Regions from separate parts of the Homo sapiens genome. Here regions 1 and 2 are each linked to region 3. Evidence: fine-mapped expression QTL. A gene starts in region 3. Each other region holds a variant in brackets. All regions are shown on one strand. Distances are between the middles of the regions.

Region 1 (5,669 bases), 99 kb before region 3:
GATACAAAGACAGAAGATACTAAAATGACATGAAAAGGCCAATATCCGGTTTGGTAAATAGACATATAGATAATGACAATAACATGAATTAAATTTAGTGCTTGAAATCTGCACAGGGTGTTATTGAAACACTTACTTGGAGTCAAGAGTAGTTACATCTCCTGAAGAGAAGCATGTGCCATGTGCTGAGGAAAATAATGTGTATTCTGTAGCCACTGGATAAAATGTCCTATAAATATCAATTATGTCTATAGTACAGATTAAGTCCAATGTTTCTTTGTTGATTTTCTGTATGCAGATCAGTCCAGTGCTGAAAGTGGGGTATTGAAGTCTCAAGTTATTATTGTATTAGGGTCTATCTCTCTCTTTAGCTCTAATAAAATTTGCTTTATATACCTGGGTGATCCAGTGTTGGGTGCATATATAATTGTTATATCTTCTTGCTGAATTAACCCCTTTATCATAATATAGTAACCTTCTTTGCCTCTTATAGTTTTTCTCTTTAAATCTATTTTGTCTGATATAAGTATAGCTACTTCTGCTGTTTTTTGGTTTCCACTGGCATGGAATATCTCTTTCCATCCCTTTGTTTTCAGTCTGTGTGTCTTTATAGGTGATGTGTATTTCTTGAAGGCAACAGGTAATTGGGTCTTATTTTTTGGTGGTGGTTGTTTGTTGTTGTTGTTGCTGTTGATGTTTTTTATCCATTCGGCCACTCCATGTCTTTTGATTGGAGAGTTTAGTCCATTTGCATTCAATATTGTTGTTGATAAGTAAGGACTTATCCTGCCATTTTGTTGTTTATATTCTCATTGTTTTGTGATCTTCTCTTCCTTCTTTCTTTTTCTTTCTGTTTTCCTTTTAGCGAAGGTGATTTTCTCTGGCTACATAATTTAGTTTCTTTTGCTTTTTAATTTTTTTGTGTATTCTTTGTGTGTTTTCTGGCTTGAGTTTACCGTGAGGCTTGCAAATACTGTCTTATAACCCATTTTTTAAACCTGATAACATACTGTTTGCATAAACAAGCAAGCAAAAAGAAAGCTAATAAAAGCTATATGCTATAACTTTATTCCCCCACTTTTTAACTTTTTGTTGTTTCTATTTGTATCTTATTGTACTATGTTCTGAAAAGTTATTTTAGTTATTATTTTTGATTGATTAGCTGTTTAGCCTTTCTACTTAAGATAAGGGTAGTTTATACCACAGTTACAGTGTTATAATATTCTGTGTTTTTCTTTGTACTTACAATTACCAGTGAGTTTTGTACCTTCCGGTGATTTCTTATTGCTCATTAACATCCTTTTCTTTGATTCCAGTGCTCCCTTTAGCATTTCTTGTTAGACAGATTTGGTATTGATGAAATCCCACAGCTTTTGTTTGTCTGGGAAAATCTGTATTTCTTCATGTTTGAAGGATATTTTTACTGGATATAGTATTCTACAGAAAAATTTTTATACCTTCAGCACTTTAAATAAGTCATATCACTCTCTCCTATCCTTTAAGGTTTCCACTAAAAAGTCTGTTGCCAGACGTATTGGAGCTCCTTGTATGTTATTTGTTTCTTTTCTCTTGCTGCCTCCTTTCTTTGTCCTTGACCTTTCGGGAGTTTGATTATTAAAAGCCTTGAGGTAGTCTTCTCTGGGTTAAATCTACTTGGTGTTCTATAACCTTCTTGTACTTGGATATTGGTATCTTTATCTAGGTTTGGGAAGTTATCTGTTATTATCCCTTTGAAGAAAATTGCTACCCTTATCTCTTTCTCTACCTCCTCTTTAAGGAGATAATTCTTAGATTTTGTTTTAAGGCCATTTTCTAGATCTTGTAGGTGTGCTTTATTGTTTGTTAATCTTTTTTCTTTTGCCTCCTCAGTCTGTGTATTTTTATTTAGCATGTCTTCAAGCTCACAAATTCTTTCTTCTGCTTGACAAATTATGTTATTAAAGGATTCTGATGCATTCTTCAGTATGCCCAATGCATTTTTCAACTCCAGAATTTCTGCCTGATTCTTTTTAATTATTTCAATATTTTTGTTAAACTTATCTAATAAAATTCTAAATTCCTTCTCTATGTTATCTTGAATTTCTTTGAGTTTTCTCAACGCAGCTATTTTGAATTCTCTATCTGAAGGGTCATATATCTGTTACTCCAGGACTGGTTCCCTGATGCTTTATTTAGTTCATTTGGTGAGGCCATGTTTTCCTGGATGGTTTTGATACTTGTAGATGTCCATCTGTGGCTGGGTATTGAAGAATTAGGTGTTTATTGTAGTCTTCACAGCCTGGGCTTGTTTGTACCCATCCTTCTTGGGAAGGCTTTCCAGATATTTGAAAGGACTTGGGTGTTGTGAACTAAGCTGTATCTGTTTTAGGGGGCACCCCAAGCCCAGTAAGGCTGTGGTTCTTGCAGATTTGTCGAGGTACCAACTTGCTGGTCTTAGAAAAGATCCAGAATAATTTTCTGGATCATCAGGCAGAGACTCTTGCTCTTTTCTCTTACTTTCTCCCAAAGACACTGGGTCTCTCTCTGTTCTGATCCACTTGGAACTGGAGGTGACATGTCACAGGCACCCTTGTGGCCACCACCATTAAAACTGTGCCTCATCAGACTTTAAGCAGCACAGCATTGTGTTTCACTCAAGGCCTACTCTAGCCACTCCCTGGTTACTGTCTATGTTCACTCAAGGCCCTTGGGCTCTACAATCCATAATGGCAAAGGCTGCCAAGCCTGTATCCTTCCCTTCAGGGCAGTAAGTTCCCGTAGTCCCTGAGAAGGTCCAGATGTGCCATCCAGGAGCCAGGGACCACAGTCAAAAACCTTAGAAATATAACTGGTGTTCTATTGTACTGCAGCTAAGCTGGCACTCAAACCACAAGACACAGTTCTTCCCACTTTTCCTTCTCCTTTGCAAAGGCAGACGAGCCTTACCTCATAGCTACTACTACCACAGGCCCACAGAGAGTACAGCCAGATTGCCACTGATGTTTCCTTAAGGCCCAAGGGCTCTTCAGTCAGCTTGTGGTGAATGCTGCCTGGCATCAGCCTCACCCTTCAGGGTAGCGGGCTCCCCTCTGCCCAGGGCAGGTCCAGAAATGCCATCCAATAGGCAAATCCTAGAATCAGGGACCTCAAGACCCCTCTGGGTACTCTACCCTGCTGTGGCCAAACTGGTATTCAAAGTGCAAGGCAAAGTCCCCTTTACATTTCCTTCTATTTTCTCAAGCAGAAGGAGTCTCACCCAATAGGCACCACAGTTGGGAATGTGCTGAGTATCACCTGAAGTCAGCAAGTCTCAGAGGCTCACTCAAGGCCCTGGATGTATTAATATTACCTGAGCATTGCTGCTGGTTATTCAGGGCCCATAGGCTCTTCAGTTAGCAGGTGGTGAATCCTGCCATGGCTGAGTCCTTCCCTTCAAGGCAGTGGATTCCCTTCTGGCCCAGGGTGTGTCTAGAAATGTCATCAGGCAGCTAGGGCCTGGAAAGGGGACCTCACACCTCTAACTGGTGCCCTATCCTGCTGTGGCTGAGCTGGCATCCAAGATGCAAGTCTTCCTCACTCTTCCCACTCCTCTCCTCAAGTGGAAGAAAGGTGTTTATTTTGGAGCTGCAAGTTGTGCAGCGTGGGTTTAGGGGAAGGGTGATGCCAGCACTCTTTTGGCTGTTCCAGCTGGTATCTCAGTATGTCACATGCCCCCCCCCC[CA/A]CCCCACTTCCCCCGCCCAGTCCACTGACCTGGGCTCAGTTCAGTCCTAGGACTTCCCTAGGTGTTGCAGTCCTCGTGTCCTAGACTGCCTTTCAAGCTTATGTAGAGCCACAGAACACTTTAGCCCACAGTGGTGGGGCTTGTGGAACTCAAGTTCTAGCCACTGGGATCAGTGATTCCCCTCTGGCTATGGCTGATTTAAATGCTTCCTCCATGGGCAGGCATCAGCTGAGTTTGGTACAGTTTTTCTTTCTGCTATAACAGAGCAAGACTGAGTTTAGTGCCTCACAATTTCTGTGTTCCCCTTTCCCTAGCTCACAGAAAGGCTCTCAGTACCATGCCACCACTGCTAGGAGATGGGGCAGGCCAGGTGTTGGCAATTCAAGGCTGTTTTTTCTACCTCTTCAGTGCCTCTTTCAGAGACATGAGGTTAAAACTAGGTACTGCGAGTGCTCATCTAATTTTTGGTTCTCATTAAAGTGATTTTTCCATGCAGATAGTTGTTAATTAGGTATCCTTGCAGGGGGAGAAATTAGTGGAGCTTTCTAGTCCACCATCTTGGTCCACATCCATAGAGTGTACATGTATTTTTTAGTGACATGTTGACAGTTACATAGTCTGCCACAGTCATGTAAATTCAAACTAATTTCTCTGTAAAAAGGAGTTAATAGTCTTATTTGATTAAGCTTTCATCTTTAGCAACATTGAAATCCTAGATCCTCCTTTAACAATGCCATAATACTAGAGGGAGAAATGTGAGATTGAGATTGGGACTATCCACACATAGCTCTCTAATCCCATGCTTCCCGGAGGATCTTAATCAGCAAACTCAGAGTTGAAAAAAGAAATTATTCTGTTTTATCTTTTTTTTTTTTTTTTTTAAGAGACGTGGGGTCTCACACTATGTTGCCCTGGCTGGACTCAAACTTCTGGGCTCAAGTGTTCCTCCTGCCTCTGCCTCCTGAGGAGCTGGAACTACAGGTATGTGTCACTGTGCCCCGCAATTTCATCTTACTTTAACAATTCTTTCTATTTTATTATCTCTATTATTTTAACACAGTCTAATTTCTATTTTGAGTGCACATCCTGCTAAGCAGGGAGGAAACACAACCTCAGACCTCAGGGCTCTTCCCCTCTGGTCAAGCTGCTGTCTCAGACTCAGGCAGTGGAAGACATTCAGGGAAAGGTAGGCTGCCTCTGAGACATTTATCATCCACAGTGGAGGACCCTGGAATTTCAGGGTCTTTCCACTCCTACCCTGACCTATCTGGGGCATGAAGTTCTCTGTAAAACTGCCGCAAGCAGCCTTCGCAACTCTAGTGTCTTGCCACCCTCCCAAAACCCTGCCTAAAAGTTTAGCAAGAGTACCATAGCAGTTAAAATAAATGAAGCTGGTTTATCTGGGTTCTAATTCCAGCCCTGCTACTTACTAGCTGTGAGATCAGCAAATTATATCTTCTTTCTCTGTCTCACTTTCTTCATTTGTAAGCTGGGAATATAGTATCTAACTCAAGGGGTTGTTGTGAGAAGAAAACATACCAAGCATTTAGAATAATGTCTGACGTAAGAATCTCATACGTTTTGATATTCACTAAAATGTAAGCTTCATGAGGGCATTTGTTCTAATTTTATCTATTTGTTCACTGCTCTTGAAACAGTGCCTGGTGTAAAAAAAGTTGAATGAATGAATGTTGAAAGATTCAGAATGTCAACCTAAATAACAAATTAAGAGAGGCTCTATTAGAAAAAATGATGTTTATTTGAGAATAGAGAATTGCAATGGGAATACGTCTGCCATAGTAAACTATGTGTATATTCAGGGAGGTAAAGGAAGACAAAGATTTTTAAAGGAAAAAATTAGGAAGATTACATAATTGTTTTGAAAAAAAATTATCCTTATCTACAAAGATCAATAACAAAAGATTAGTTGGGCTCAGTGGTGCGCACCTGTAGTCCCAGCTACTCTGGA
Region 2 (10,184 bases), 140 kb after region 3:
TCACGTAAAACCCATCAAGTTTGAAGATGTTTATGTCGGGATCTGTTTGAATTTATTAAAAGTGAACATTCATATTCCAGAAGACACAAATCTTTTCTTTCTATATAGAATCCATTTGGATGTCTGTCAACTGAGACGTGTGATTGCAGCCCATGGCTTTTCTTCCAAGGAGATCATCACTTTTTGGCAGGTCATGCTAAGGAACACCACATGCCATTATTAACTTCACATTCTACAAAAAGCCTAGAAGGACAGGATACTTTGTGGAAAGTGTTAAATAAAGTAGGTACTGTGGAAAATTCATGGGGAGGTCAGTGTGCTGGCTTACACTGAACTGAAACTCATGAAAAACCCAGACTGGAGACTGGAGGGTTACACTTGTGATTTATTAGTCAGGCCCTTCAAAGATGATATGTGGAGGAATTAAATATAAAGGAATTGGAGGTTTTTGCTAAAGAAATTAATAGGACCAAACAATTTGGACATGTCATTCTGTAGACTAGAATTTCTTAAAAGGGTGTTACTGAGTTATAAGCTCACTAGGCTGTAAAAACAAAACAATGTAGAGTTTTATTTATTGAACAATGTAGTCACTTGAAGGTTTTGTGTATATCTTATGTGGATTACCAATTTAAAAATATATGTAGTTCTGTGTCAAAAAACTTCTTCACTGAAGTTATACTGAACAAAATTTTACCTGTTTTTGGTCATTTATAAAGTACTTCAAGATGTTGCAGTATTTCACAGTTATTATTATTTAAAATTACTTCAACTTTGTGTTTTTAAATGTTTTGACGATTTCAATACAAGATAAAAAGGATAGTGAATCATTCTTTACATGCAAACATTTTCCAGTTACTTAACTGATCAGTTTATTATTGATACATCACTCCATTAATGTAAAGTCATAGGTCATTATTGCATATCAGTAATCTCTTGGACTTTGTTAAATATTTTACTGTGGTAATATAGAGAAGAATTAAAGCAAGAAAATCTGAAGTATTGTCTTGTTTTTAAAAAATACAGTTCCTAGTGTTTTTAGAAGTCACTTAATTTGTCTCATTTTTCCACCTGGAAATTAGGAATAATGTAGAATGCAAGGCAGTAATTTCCTTTTGGAAAGGACTCTGAAGGCAGAAAAGAAGGGAGAGAACCTCATGGGCAGAATATTATAAAAAGAGTGTCATATTCCAGCATTTGAATTGGAAAGAGAAGAGTGAAGATCCAAGTTGCATTATTAATCTGCCCTGTGTTTTTTCCTTTTAACAATCAGTTTGAGCTGCTGCTGTTATGAGTTTCTCATCAAGATGAAAGCCCTAATATGTAAAGTCAAATCCGATTTAAATTTTGTGCTTTTATAGAAAGAAATTTCTTCATAGACGTGGTGATATATCATTTGTTGGACCTGCTAATAGTAGGTCAAAGGGGAGCACTCCTTGCCCCCTGTTCCTGGGTTTATGCAGTTTTCTTTTTAGAGTTTATATAGGGCAAGTGGTTCTTTTTCTCTGAATTACAGGATGGAAAAAGGTCATATCCTTTGTCAGGAAATATAAACTTGAAAGTATGTAGTCAGCTCTTGTAATACTCATATTTATGATTGTCCTATATGAAAAACAACTTCAGTTAAAACTATAATGTGTGATTCTGTATAACAAGGTGATGTCTGTTTCCCAGGGCTCAGACCTAATCCAGTTATAATAAAATCAATTAAATGAAATATTCTATAGAATCGATCTATGCCCTTGTTAATCTCCATCCATATAGGAGTCACGTTCTTTAAGACAGATGGTGGTAGTTATTTTTGTGGCATGGTTAGATTTGACTGGTTTTGCAGAAGATTACAGTTATGTACTGCATAATGACATATACAATAGTGGTCCCATAAAATTATAATGGAGCAGAAAATCTATTGCCTCATGATGTTTTAGCCGTTTTAATGTCATAGCCTAGTGCATTACTCACGTGTCTGTGGAGATGCTGGTGTAAACAAACCTACTACACTGCCAGTTGTATAAAAGTACAGCACATTCAGTTATGTACAGTATGTAATACTGATAATGACAATAAATGACACCGGTTTGTGTATTTACTTTTTATAATTAGAGTGTTCTATTCCTACTTATTAAAAAAATGTTTAATAGAGCCTTGGGCAGGTCCTTCAGGAGGTATTCCAGAAGAAAGCATTGTTATCATAGGAGATGACAGCTCCATTCATGCTATTTCTCCTGAAGACCTTCCAGTGAGACAAGATGTGGTGATAGAAGACAGTGATACTGATGATCCTGACCCTGTGGGCCTAGGCTAATGTGTGTGTTTGTGTCTTAAGTTTTTAACAAAGTTTAAAAAGTAGAAAAATAAAGTTTAAAATAGGAAAAAACTTACAGAATAAGGATATAAAGATATTTTTGTGCAGTTTTACAAGATGTTTGTGTTTTAAATTTAAGCTAAGTGTCAAAAAACTTTGACAAAAGAGTCAAAGTTTGAAAGTTTGTAAAGTTAAGTTACGGTGAGTTAAGGTTAATTACTGAAGAAAGAAAATTGTTAAATGAATTTAGTGTGGCCTACTTTAAATGTGCCATGTTTGTAAAGTCTACAGTAGTGCACAGTAATGTTTGAGGCCTTCACATTCACCCACCACTCACT[T/C]AGTGACTCACACAGAGCAACTTCCACCCCTGCAAGCTCTATTAATGGTAAGTGCCCTCCCTATACAGGTGTACTATTTTTTATCTTTTATACTGTTTGGTTTTTTTTACTGTGCTTTTTCTATTTTAGATACACCAGTACCATTGTGTGACAGTTTCCAACAGTAAGTATTCAGTACAGTAACATTCTGTACAGGTTTATAGCCTAGAAGCGATAGGCTCTACCATGTAGCCTAGGTGTATAGTAGGCTATGCCATCTACGTTTGTGTAAGTACACTCTAATGTTTGCACAACGACAAAATCACCTATTTCTCAGAATGTATCTCCATTGCTAAGTGCCACATTTCTGTATATCGATGTTTGGGAAGCTAACTCAAAACATTTCTAGAGAGAACTTTTAACATAAAAAATAATTCCCTTTCACTTTTAGAAAAGACCAAAAAACAAAAAAAAAACAAACAAGTTTCAGAAGATTGTTTCTTTTGAACTGAAGATTGGTGCCTAAAAGAACCTACAAAGTTAAATGATTAGGAAAACATTAAGAGATTGGGTCATTATATTTTTTGTTTTCAACTATATTAAGCTTTCAGGAAGTAAATATTAGCTGTGTTATTAAAATCATGACCTGGTGTTTAACCAAATCAGCAGCTTTAAAAATTTTAACTCATATAACAACGTTTAATACTGGAGCTTATCCTTGGGCTGATTTGGTCCCATCTGCCTTAGCCCTGCCATCCCCATAGTTTCACACACCCTCTGCCTCACTTGCTTTCCTTGTCTGCAGGTGTTGAGTTTGTGACTTTTAGCACATTAGTTAGCTTTGCTAAGGGTCACAAATGCTACAGTAACGCCCAAATCTCAGACTTGATGACAACCAATGTTTTCACTCAGTTGCATGGCAGTGGTTGGCTGCAACCCTGCTCTATGTCTTTTTCATTCCAGGATCCAGGCTGATGGGCAGCCCGTTTGGAACATGCTGTTCTTATAGAAGGAAATTAAAAAGCTGGTGGAAGCACAGTGGCATATATTAATACATCCACTGGCTGAGATGAATCCCTTGCCAAGCCCAGTGTCACTGAGGTGGGGAAGTATATTTCTCTTGCAGGAAGTAACTGCAAGTGATGTTGCAGCATGCAGGAATGTATTGTTCCACAGAATGGGGAATGAAAAACTGAGTGCAGTCGTACTGTAAGCTGCCACACTCAGTGTCTGAAAGGGAGAGGGAGCCTTCAGACAATGCCAGACAACTCTGCAACAGACCCCAATTTAGGCCCTGTAAACCAGAAATGTAAGAAATAATTTTTGCCTAATGCTGCCAACTTTGGGGATGCTTTCTTACGATAATTAAAACATTTCTCACCAAGGAAATTTCCCATTGTCTGTGGCCCCGGGGCCAAGACTTCTCTCCTCACATCTGGCCACTCCTCTATACATGCCGGGCCTTACCCCTGCTTGAGGTTATCAACGAGTAATTTCCAAAACTCCTTTCCACTTAGCCCTCTTTCTGTTTCACTTTCTCCTTTCAGACCATGTGGGAAGCAAGGCAGGGGTGAATGCTGCTTAACATTTCTCCCCCCCCACACTCCCCCCAAAAAAACTCATTCAAGGCATTTCCCAGATAAAAGGAAATCAACTTCTCTAAAGATAAATTTTGTCATTCTTTTAAAAGGTTGCAGCAGCTGCTGTGATGGTTCTAAATGCCACTCTTCCCTCTCTTGCAACATATGTACAAACTACAGAAACAGGATGAAAATATAACAAAATTTGAACAGAAAATGCCTCTCAAAAGATTTCTTCCTACTTTAAAAGTACCTTTTATTACATTCTCAACAATGAGGATAAATCATTTTTATAACACAGATGTTTTAACAAATACATTAACAAATTTAGGTAAAGGTAAAAAGTGGCATCAAAATGTTATGAGCAAAGGCTGCTGCGGTGCAGGCCAAATGCTGTGTTTGCCGGTAAGCCCCCAGCCTCACGTGCCCACCATCCCGCTTTCTTCTGTGCAGGCAGGGGCTGCCTCCCATCCTCAGTCACTTTTGTTGTTTAAGACGGTCTCGCTCTGTCGCTCAGGCTGGAATACAGTGGCACGATCATAGCTTTACTACAGCCTCGAGCTTTTGGGTCCAAGTGATCCACCTCAGCACCCCCCAAGTATCTGGGACTACAGGCGTGTGCCACCACACCTGGCTAATTATTCAAAAACTTTGTAGAGATGGGGCTTACTATGTTGCTCAGGCTGCCACTGCCCTTTACCAGCCTTTGTTGCCCCTCATGCTTTGACATGTGAACCAATCCCAGCCAGTGGGACCCCAGGCGATGTCTGCTGGTGGGCTTCTGGGGGTATTCCTTTCTAATAAAGACAAAGGAGAAATTCTTTTCTTTGGCCAGATGTTGTGTCTGCAATGATAGTATCTGAAGCAACCGTGTGGGTCCCATGAGAACAGCCTAAAGGCCAGGGCAGTGGCTGAGGTGGAGACCCTGGCTCTTGATGGCATCATTGAGCCACTGAACCAACCCTGTGACCACAGACTTCTTGCCCCTGCATATGTGAGTTCACCACCATGGTGGGTGCAGTGGTCTGTTACAGCTGAGGGCATCCAAAGTTTAGGAACATACGAAACAGTTTTCCTCTTCCTGAGGGTCAGCGCCAATGATGAGCGGGGCCGAAGTGAAGAGATAAACCCAATTTCCTATGAGGCAGATAGAAAGCAGCTTGTCCGTGACACAGGAGCTCCATGCTCTGGGATGCATCTTGTTGGAGAATGGATCCCAGCCTGAGTGAGCAGCCCACACTGATGGATTGGGGATAGCGGAAATTAAAAAATGCCTTCTGTTCCTCTCTTCCTTGCTCCTCAATAGGTGATTACCTTCCATTTCAGGCAGCAGAGTCTGAATTCCTATCTGCTGGGAGCACGGAAAGGGGCACAGCATCCTGGTTACAAACCTGAAGAGTGTACACATCTCTCACTAATGAAGCCATCACAATATGGAGCCAGGTCTTCCCATTTGAACGAGGAGAGAGGACAGGGTCACATTTGCTTGCCTTTTACTGCTTACTCACTGAACAGCATCAGGGAAGGTTTACTTTATGAACCTGGCACAAAGTAGGTTCTGGGCCTGATGTTAACAACATTCACTCTGCCCTCTTCACAAATGAAAAGGTGGAAAATTTCTGACTTCTGGTAAATTCACATTGCAATGACTGTTTCTCTGGACACAGATCTTGCAGTTCTCCCATCCCTCAAGGCTGCTGTGATTGATTTATTTTAAAAAGTCTTTCACGGTTTCAGGAGAAGAACAGTTGAAAAACTATAGGTAGAGGTTAATTTGGTGTTCACAAATCAAGTGATAGTTCACTCTATCTCATAGCTCAATGAATAGTAGGATTAGGAGAGAAATTTAACTTCACTTTTGTAGTGAATCCCTTTTTATATGTACCTTTAAAACTTTTGCACTTCCTTTTTTTTCTCCTTTAGTGAACCTTAGCATATAAACAAGATAATTTTTTAAAAAAGCATTTTATAGGTAGAAATGAACTTTTATATTTATCAGACTTGAATTTGAAAGCAGGTAGAGTAGGCAATTGTTTCGTCTGCGTAACAAACTCCTTTTCTTTCCCCTTTTTTTTTAAAAAAAATTATTCTTTTTAAGAGATGGGGTCTCACTGTGTTGACCAGGCTGGTCTCAAACTCCTGAGCTCAAGTGATCCTTCTGCTTTGGCCTCCCAAAGTATAGGTATTACAGGTGAGAGCCACTATGTCTGGCCCCAACTTTTTCTAGAAAATTCTGAGAATTGTCTAATCCACGAACTCCATCTACATGGTTAGTCCAAGTCACCGTGTTACTACAATATGGCCTAAGCCATGAGTACTACCCACTCTTCAGAGTCTAGAATCCTGGAGAGAGTTTACCTCTATTTCATTCTGTCTCCAAATTTTACAGTATTTCTTCCTGCATTGAGTGAAAACCTTTGCAGATGGATATTCTGTTCTGAACACTTTTCTCAGAGGTGCATCATGCTGTGTTGCTGGAGCCTACATCTGTGTATAATGTAACCCTTGTTACCTTATAGTAATTACTATATAAACTTTGTCGATGTGTTACTATAAAGCTGGGTAAAAGTTGTGTTAGGTTTACAATAAACATTTTTTGTTGCATACATTGTATATATGTTTATAAATTGCCTTGTTTTGAACCAGAGCCAGGCTTATTCCCATTCCAAATGAAAGCACCAAAGTCTCAAAACCTCCTGCCTCTTGCTTCTGTTAGGCTTTGGTCTTATCCTCTACCCATGAATTGTTTCTTTGCTTTCCACATAGAACCCTAGCTCAAGCTACTCCAACTCAAAAGCATAGAGAAATTATAAAATTCAAGAACAGATGTTAGAATGGAAAATGAGTTTAACTTAAAAGAATACCAGCAGTCTCATGTTTAAAGTCTAACAACTTTGTGTTTATTTTTGCTTTAATCTTGTCATGGGTAAATTTTTAGCTGTTCATTTTTATACAACACCACAGGATCAGAGATAGCATGAACACATTAGTCTCTACAAGGCTAATTCTACCCGAGCACCCATCAAAGCGACCCAAATGACACGCCATGCATCTTGAGTGACCGTGCACTGCCATATACTCTGAGCTCTACTACAGGTAATGTTACACCAAATTGACATTGTAACTGTGTTTCAAATGTCTCTTAGAGACAAATACAGATCAGTAGGTATAATAACCTCTGAAGACTTCCAAGAGTAATGAGGTTTCGCCAAGCCTTGTTGTATTTATCATGGATGGTTTTCAGGAAATAACTTACGAGAAAGCCTGATTGATTTTACAGTCATTTTGACCTGTGATTTATTTATTAAGTACAATTTGAAGATTCCTAAAATAAAGTATTGCCAATAAATTATAGATCCTGTATCTCTTTATAAACAAATAATCCCTTGTGATTTTTAAAGTTGCAAGAAAATGCTGATGGAAAAATTTTCATGATGTTGAAATAGGTATAAATAAAAGCTTATACAAAGCCACTGTCTCAACATCAGCAGGATAAGAGAGAAGAACTTCTGAGACATTATACTGTTCCCCAAAAAAACACTACTTTTTTTCCTTCCCCTTTTTCTCTCCTCACTCTGTGCTTTCCTCCTTTCCATCCTTAATAACTGAGCTCCATCTATGGTTTTAATCTTACTAAATCAGAAATTGGCTTGGTTTCATTTGAATTTCCTTTTATATGTGCTCATGATTAAAAACAAAACAAAAACCCTACTTTTGATCACAATCAGATCTTTACCGTCTCTAACCATTTACTGCCTAGTATATGAAGTATATGAATTATTCTAATTCAATAGGATTCTAATGCAATTTGGCAATAACTAGTATTATTTGGATTTAAAAAGCCATTGGCATAAACAGAGATGTTTAGGGGAAATGAGCAGGCAAGCAAATAATTTAGAAAGAAGTGATGGTTTCTGTGGTTAAAAATAAAAGTCTGGGATTTAGTTTTTCTTTGCCATACAGAAAACAGATGTTGCTATTTTTGTTCAAAATACAAAACTTAAATTCCATGCTTAGACTCTGGAATGTGTAAAGTAACTATGGATACCAAATTTATGATTTAAAAAAATGACATTTAGTCTTCTGTTCATATTTGAAATCAGGAAATAATTGTGCTCCTGAAATGTTAACTTTCTATATAACAGATTCACTGATTTACACTCAGGAACACTGAAGATACTCAGTTCTGGGCTGTCTTTGGGGGCATAAGGTTATTACACTAGTCTCTTGGGAACAAAAATAAAAATAGGCCATGGAGAGATGTTCTTGCTCCTCCCTTTTCTCCTTTTCTATAATCCTTCTCTTCCCCTAGAAAGATCTGGACAACCTGGCTTTCACCAGCCTACTGCTGCACCCTTGCACAGCTGCTGGCCCACTTGGGTGGAGGCTTCCAGTGGCACCCTCCACTGGGACAGTCCCACCCCCCTATCCTTGTCCCCAGAGGCTCCATGTCTCACTCCCCACCCCATCCTTCAGAAACTAGGTGAGCTAGTAAAATGGAGTAATTATCTTCTGCAGTTTGCTTGAGTGTTGGCAAGAAATTCCCAATCTCATATCACTTACTCTTATATGTGAGAAATAATTATTCTAATTCTGCCCTGTCCCAACAAATCTAAGCCCATTGGAAGAAATCATGAAGATAACAATTTTCATCCCATTGGGTCAATATTGAGTGTTATAATATCTCTGACACCCCAATAGGGTGTAAGCCCCAAGAAGGCAGTGATGGCGCCTGAGTGCTCACCATGGATACATTCACTCAGACACAGTCACTGCCTGGCACATAGTAGATGCTCACACAAAAAAGGAAAGAATAAAATATACAAACACACAGCAATAATAGTGACTTTCCCAATGTAATCTGTTCATAAGATTGATCAATCTGTTATAAATGCAATGATGCTTCTATTTATTTTTAAGAAAAAAACTCATACATTTTCCTTATACAAATTATGTATGTGAGCAGAGTTTACATTGGGGTCTTTTGGAATGAACTGTTTAATTACTATTTTCCAGGTTTGTCAGAATAATCATTTATCTGAACCCACTAAAATTTCTATTTGTCTTTCTCTCTCTTTTTTTTTTTCCTGGCTGCCCATGAGAATGCTGAGACATTATCAAATAGATTTCAATTCTGTGACCTGAACTGCAGTTGTGTAAGTGCTATAAATCAAAATCATTTGCTTTAGTAATTGAAGAGTAAACTGAAAGACAATATTGTAGATGTTAATGTTTCAATGTGAACATGTAATAAATTAAAAAGAACAAACACTGCTTTCTATAATAGAAGCAAAAGTTATGGGTTTTCTCCATGGTCATATTTTATTCATTATTCTACTTTCTGCACACTGTATATGCTTGAGATAAAACAATAACCAAGATGATAAATACATAAAGACTGTTAGTTGTAGTCTGGGAGCCTAAATCAGAGGAGTATTCTTGCTTAATGTCCCATGGTTCTAGCTTTTCTCCACAGAGCAGGATTTAGACGTTTTCATTACTACACGAAGAAGTCATCATTTGTCCTAAGATAGACAAATGGGAATTTAAAAGTTATACAAAAGACATCTTTTTCTTGGGTTAGAGATGTCTAATACATCATTTCTACAGGATTAATTTTTTTAATCATATGAGCAACCTGACCCATTGCATTATATGGATTAGAAAACTCTCTAAGAAGCAAGAATATCAAATCACTCTGTGGTTGGTTTTTGTGAAATTGTCTGTCGTAAATTGAGTACTCACTAGTATTCATGTTGGCATTTGCAAAATTACCACTATGTTAAAACTCGCTCCCAGTTGTACCTGTGACTGTGTTTATCTGACTTCAGTTTTACTGTCCACGATTTGGAACGTGAATGGAATCTGGGACAGTAAAGGTGTTGAGGAGAGCAATAAATGAGATCTCATGTATCCATTTTCATCAGAAAAAAATGGAATAGGGACTGCAATTTTACTAACTTCGCAAATAACTGAGAATGT
Region 3 (5,000 bases):
AAGTTCAATAATCTTCCATGTCCAATGGTAGCCACTAGCCACATGTGGCAACATGGCTAGTACAAACGAGCAACCAAGTATTTAATTTTATTCCATTTAAATTAATTTAGGAAACTTCCAACTTAAACTGCTTGGGGTTTATGTTGACAGAGTGGAGCCAGCGGTACCACCTGGAAAGAAAGCAGTTCCTGACAGAGCTAACCAGGCTCTTCCAGAAGTGCTGGTTGTCCGGAGGGAAGTATAATGGTCAAACAACCCATTCCAAGAAAGGGTTCTGTGAAGGGCTTTGAGCCCTTAGACAAGTGTCTGTTAAAAGCTACTGATAGAACAAGGAAGATCAGCACTATGCTGAGCTCCAAAGACATTTTCAGATGGCTTATTCAAACCCACTGAGCTAACTGATGGACAAGGGAAGAGTAAAGCATCACAGGGAAGGGGGCCAAATTTCCTGCTTTCACTAACCACTGAATTCCTATTTTTCCTTTGGTTTTTACTTTTGGCCACAAAGCTAGTTTCTCCATAGTTACTGTTTTCCTGTGAGATTAGGGTCATTCTAGACAGAAGGACTACAATGTTTACAGGGTAGTTGTGGTAAGAAGCCAATTTATTTTAGATTTAGCTAATTGGTCTGTGCTGAACGATTCCAGGATTATCGTTTAAAAGTCTCTGTAGTAATCTCTTTGAAGAGCACTGTATCATTAAACCTATTTAACAGCAAAAAAAAAAAAGTTAATTTGAACTTAAATGCAAGAAATTAAAAATTGATAACTAAGATTTAAGATGTTCAAAATTTAAAAATTACTACATTATAATCTCCAATAAAAATCAGGAAGTCATCCGAGCTACTCGGGAGGCTGAGGCAGGGAATTGCTTGAACCCGGGAGGTGGAGGTTGCAGTGAGCCGAGATCACACTACTGCACTCCAGCCTGGGCAACAGAGCGAGATTCCGTCTCAAAAAAAAAAAGTAAGTAAAAAGTAAATTTAAATAGCCACACGTAGCTAATGGCTACATATTGGACAGTGCCGATCTAAAAGGATGTATGGTAAATATTTTAACCCTCTTAGAGCTTATATTTACTAGAACAAGCTTTATAACCAGAAACTAATTCGATTTTCTACAGAAATAAGACTTCTATTTTTTCCCATTTATGACAATATACGCTCTTTCCCACCCACCCTCAAGCGTTCTCCATAGTGAGTTTCCCGGGCTCACTGAAGATTTTCACATTTAAGGGGGAAGGAAGAAGTGTCGCACTCACATGTGTCCAGGGCTGCGGTCGGTGGATTCTGCCATATACTCCATCGTTCTGTATGCCTTAAGTTCTTTTAAAAAAAAAAAAAAAAAAAAAAAAAAAAAAGAGAATGTTGGGATTTAAATCACTTTACCTAGTCTCCTCTTTTTACGTCTTCCTCCAGTCTCTCTGAATAATTAATATATTCACAGAACTTCGAAAAAGCAGGAAAGAAGGAAACCCAACTCCACTGGGTAAGTTCGTTAAAAAGAACTTTAAGATGAGGACCATGGGATTTCCTGAGCTTCCCAGCTGCAAGACCCTCGGGCCACCCAGCTCTGCCGCTGACCTCCATCTCACCTGGGCTCCAACCCTGGACGACCAAGGGCGAGGTCAGCTCGGGATTGTGGACGCCCGGGCCCTCCCGCTCTCCACCAGCCCAGGGACCGCACCGGACCACCGCGCCTCAGACCCACGCCACAGGAGTCTCCGGACGGCGTCCCGGCGCCCGAGGGCCACCCACGCCGACCCCCAACCCCGGGGCGCGACCGCACACGGGTTCCGGGCACGCGGCGCTCACGCAGACTGAGCACGGCCCCGAGGCCGGGGAGCCCGCCCCATCCGCTACTCAGGGGCCCGCGGCCGACAGCCCAGGTCTCGGACTCCGGAACCTACTTCGCGCCTCCAGACCAGCCCTGGATTTGCTGAAAACCCGCAACAAAATAGACCCCGGCTGTCCCGTCAGCTGCCAACCTGGCTGTCTCCGCCACAGAGAAGATCTCGCGAGCGAAATGCTCGAAATCCCGCGGCCCGAGTGACGTATTAAAAGGGACGGGGTGGGGACGAGGAAAGGGGCGGCACCGACGGGCGGAAGGGTGATGGGAGCGGCCTGGTGGCTGGGAAAGCTCGCGGAGAGAAGTCCCAGGGGCTCATTTGCCGTCAGTGACTGCTTTTCAGTTATCGTCTCGATTTTCCCAGGCCAGGGTTTACTCCAAACCAACCTCGCCCGTATATTAGTCTCTTTTCAGCTATCCCGACTGTGAGCTTGCTTCTTGATTAAATGATTATTTTATATAAAAGTTATCTGTAAACGGTACCTTATGCAAAGAAACTCCATCCAGGGCAGTGCCTTTTGTCTGTTTGGTTCACCGTCATATACAGGCCTGATGCCTGCCACATGCTAACTGCTCAAATGATTATTTGTTGAAAGAATGAAATGTAAAGCATAATTATCTGTGAAGAAGTCTATGCGATTTTTAGACAAATTATTAATTATGTGCTTCCGGATAGTGCATTTAATATCTTCTTATGACTGATTTATCCCTCAAACTTGGAGCAGCACAGACCGTGTCTAATCTGTCTCATGACAGCCTTTCAAATATTTGAAGAGTACAACCATTTTTTTTTCTAAATCCTCTCATCCCAAATTTCAAGGAATAAGCAAAGGCGTTTTGTAGAGGGTGATCAGAGACAGCCTCTCATCATTTCTTGCCCAGAATACTTAAGTAGCCTCTCGTCTGTTGTCTCTACTTGTAGACTTCAATTCATCCTTCTGAAATGCAGTTCTGATTTTGTCACACTCCCCTGCTTTTAATCCTTCAGTGGCCTCTGATTACCTTCAGCATTATTTCCAGTTTCTTTGTGTGGAAAGAAGACCTTTCAGGATCTGATCTCCACATATCCTGTCCTACTCCCAAGCACACGTACTCGCAAGCCATGAAGACCAACTGGCAGGTCCTCACAGAAAATAGTCTTCCTTTGCTTCTACCCGGGACTCGGCACTAAAGATTAAGCCTGAATTAGTTTCCTAGTGCTGCTCTAACAAATTATCACTGATTTAGTTGGCTTAGAAAACACAAATTTGTTCTCTTCCAGTTCTGGAAGCTACAGGTCTAAATAGATGGTGAGGGCTGACTCTGGAGGCTCCAGGAGAAAATCCATTCCCTGGCCCTTTCCAACTTCTACACGCTGCCCACATTCCTTGGCTTGTGGTCCCACATCATTTTGCAGTCAGAGTCTCCTTTTCTCACCCCCACCCCCCCGCACCCCTCTTACAAGGACACTTGTGATTTCACTGGGCCCAACCAAATAATCCAGAATAATCTCTCCATCTCAAGAAATTTAATCACATCTGTAAAGTTCGTTTGCCATGTTAGGTAATATATTCACAGATTTCAGGGAATAGGACATCTTTGCAGAGCCATTATCCTGTCCACCATACATCCTCTCTTTTCTGACTCCTTCGGTCCCTAAGGGCCAGAGGAGTTACATGCTCCTTCTGTATATATGGTTCTATGATAACACCTTTATACGAGGTATATGCCTCTATAATAGTGCTTTGAATTGGATCATAAATTTTCTACTCTGCATGCCCAGCAGTTTCAAAACCCTGGAGAGCAATTCGGGTCTTGTTCTTCTTGGTGCACCTAGCACAGCAGCTGACACAAAACAGACCCTCAATATATATTGGTAAATTAATTATCCATTTAATACCCACCACAACTCTGAAGAGACAGTGTTTTTCTCCCCGTTTTTTCTATTCACACTGCCTATGCCCTCAACCAAACACCACTAGGAACACAGCTGTAGTTAAGCAGCTTCTGTCTATTTATTACTCTTCGAAGTGAGCCCAGACACTCACCATGGATACCCTTTGGGTATCTCAGTAAGAGGGTGTTTAGAACAAACCTATCATAGGATTGGGGCTTTGGGCGGGTGTTTTCGGGGAGGCCCTAAGAAAATAGAGGTTTTTCTATAGATTGGATGCTGTCAGAAAGCAGGGGCAATTCTGTGATTGGATGTCTCAGTAAATCTTATTTACACAAAGGGAAGCAGGAGGATAAAGCTGCAATTAGCAAAGAAGTAGCAGTCACTCATTTTGGTGAAGAAAGGGAATGTTTGGTATTTTGTGGGTGGCATAGTGAACTTATTTTGGTCTGTGCTTAGACAAAATTATGAAGTGACCTTCTTTGCCTCATTTTATCATGGTTTCAGAGTAATCTTGTCTGAGTTTAGTATTCTGTGAAATTATTTCTGTCTAATAGGAAAATATTATGGCATAGCTGCAAGTACCAGACCAGCTTCTAAATGTCAAAGGCTGCTCATTTTTTAACACATTCCTTCTACAATTATTTGATTTGGCTCTGAATACCAGGCTTCTTAAGCACTTGATGTATGATAATAACAGCACAGATATGGTCCCTGCCCTCATGGACCTTACATATTACAGATGAGGCTGGATTAGATTAGGCAATTTGTTGAAAGTCCTATAGCAAATAATTGATAGAACTGGGACGTGAAATACAGTTTGTTTCTGAACCCAGACCCTCACCATAGCAGCCTACCTCCCCTTCTGAGGCTGAGGCCGTCTATTCCTATCCACAACCTTTTGATAAATGAAATACTTCTGTAGTAGAAGGCACCTATATTTCTCTCTTCATCTGCCAGCCCCCACCACTAAGATTTCCAGATGTCAAAAGTAAGTTCTTGATTTCAACTACCTCTCTCATGAGCCTGAATGAGCTTGCTAGGATTGGACTGAGTGGGATAATATTGGCAAACAATACCAGAGGGAAACTCACTTTGCACTTTTTATTTAACCTCAAATCTCACCTGAAAATAATAGGTGAGATTATTTTCAGCTCCCATAGTCCTTGCACTGAGGATATCTATCTGTATTCAAATCTAAGCCTTAGTATATGTTTACAAACTTCATTTCTATGTGTTTAACCATGGTATTAAAATGGAATTCCTGGCCGAACATAATG

Direction of the effects. Alleles are on the strand shown, and positions count from the first base shown. SD is a standard deviation of normalised expression in the study named. Not every link is listed here.
As copies of A replace CA in region 1, the expression in iPS cells of the gene that starts at base 2,007 in region 3 goes down (large effect, 0.90 SD a copy in iPSCORE).

What was found. PIP is the estimated chance that this variant, and not a neighbour inherited with it, causes the effect.
Region 1: its variant is the best candidate, but not a certain one, in a credible set for the expression of NMD3 in iPS cells (iPSCORE, PIP 0.57).
Region 2: its variant is the best candidate, but not a certain one, in a credible set for the expression of NMD3 in tibial artery (GTEx, PIP 0.61).

The regions. Positions count from the first base shown.
Region 1 is chr3:161,317,318-161,322,986 of GRCh38, reverse strand. No RefSeq gene overlaps it. Among named protein-coding and RNA genes, the nearest start is that of SPTSSB, 51 kb to the left of the region's middle. The variant CA/A (reference allele first, on the strand shown) is at 3,700.
Region 2 is chr3:161,075,798-161,085,981 of GRCh38, reverse strand. It overlaps B3GALNT1 (beta-1,3-N-acetylgalactosaminyltransferase 1 (Globoside blood group)), which reads left to right. Exons shown (of 5, transcript NM_003781.4): 5 at 1-2,099. The coding sequence ends at 223. PPM1L (protein phosphatase, Mg2+/Mn2+ dependent 1L) reads right to left here. Exons shown (of 4, transcript NM_139245.4): 4 at 7,080-10,184. Among named protein-coding and RNA genes, the nearest start is that of B3GALNT1, 24 kb to the left of the region's middle. The variant T/C (reference allele first, on the strand shown) is at 2,644.
Region 3 is chr3:161,218,318-161,223,317 of GRCh38, reverse strand. It overlaps NMD3 (NMD3 ribosome export adaptor), which reads right to left and starts at 2,007. Exons shown (of 16, transcript NM_015938.5): 1 at 1,909-2,007; 2 at 1,261-1,324. The coding sequence starts at 1,304. It also overlaps the pseudogene SRP14P5. RefSeq lists a silencer at 1,645-1,844 and enhancers at 1,764-2,265, 2,325-2,434.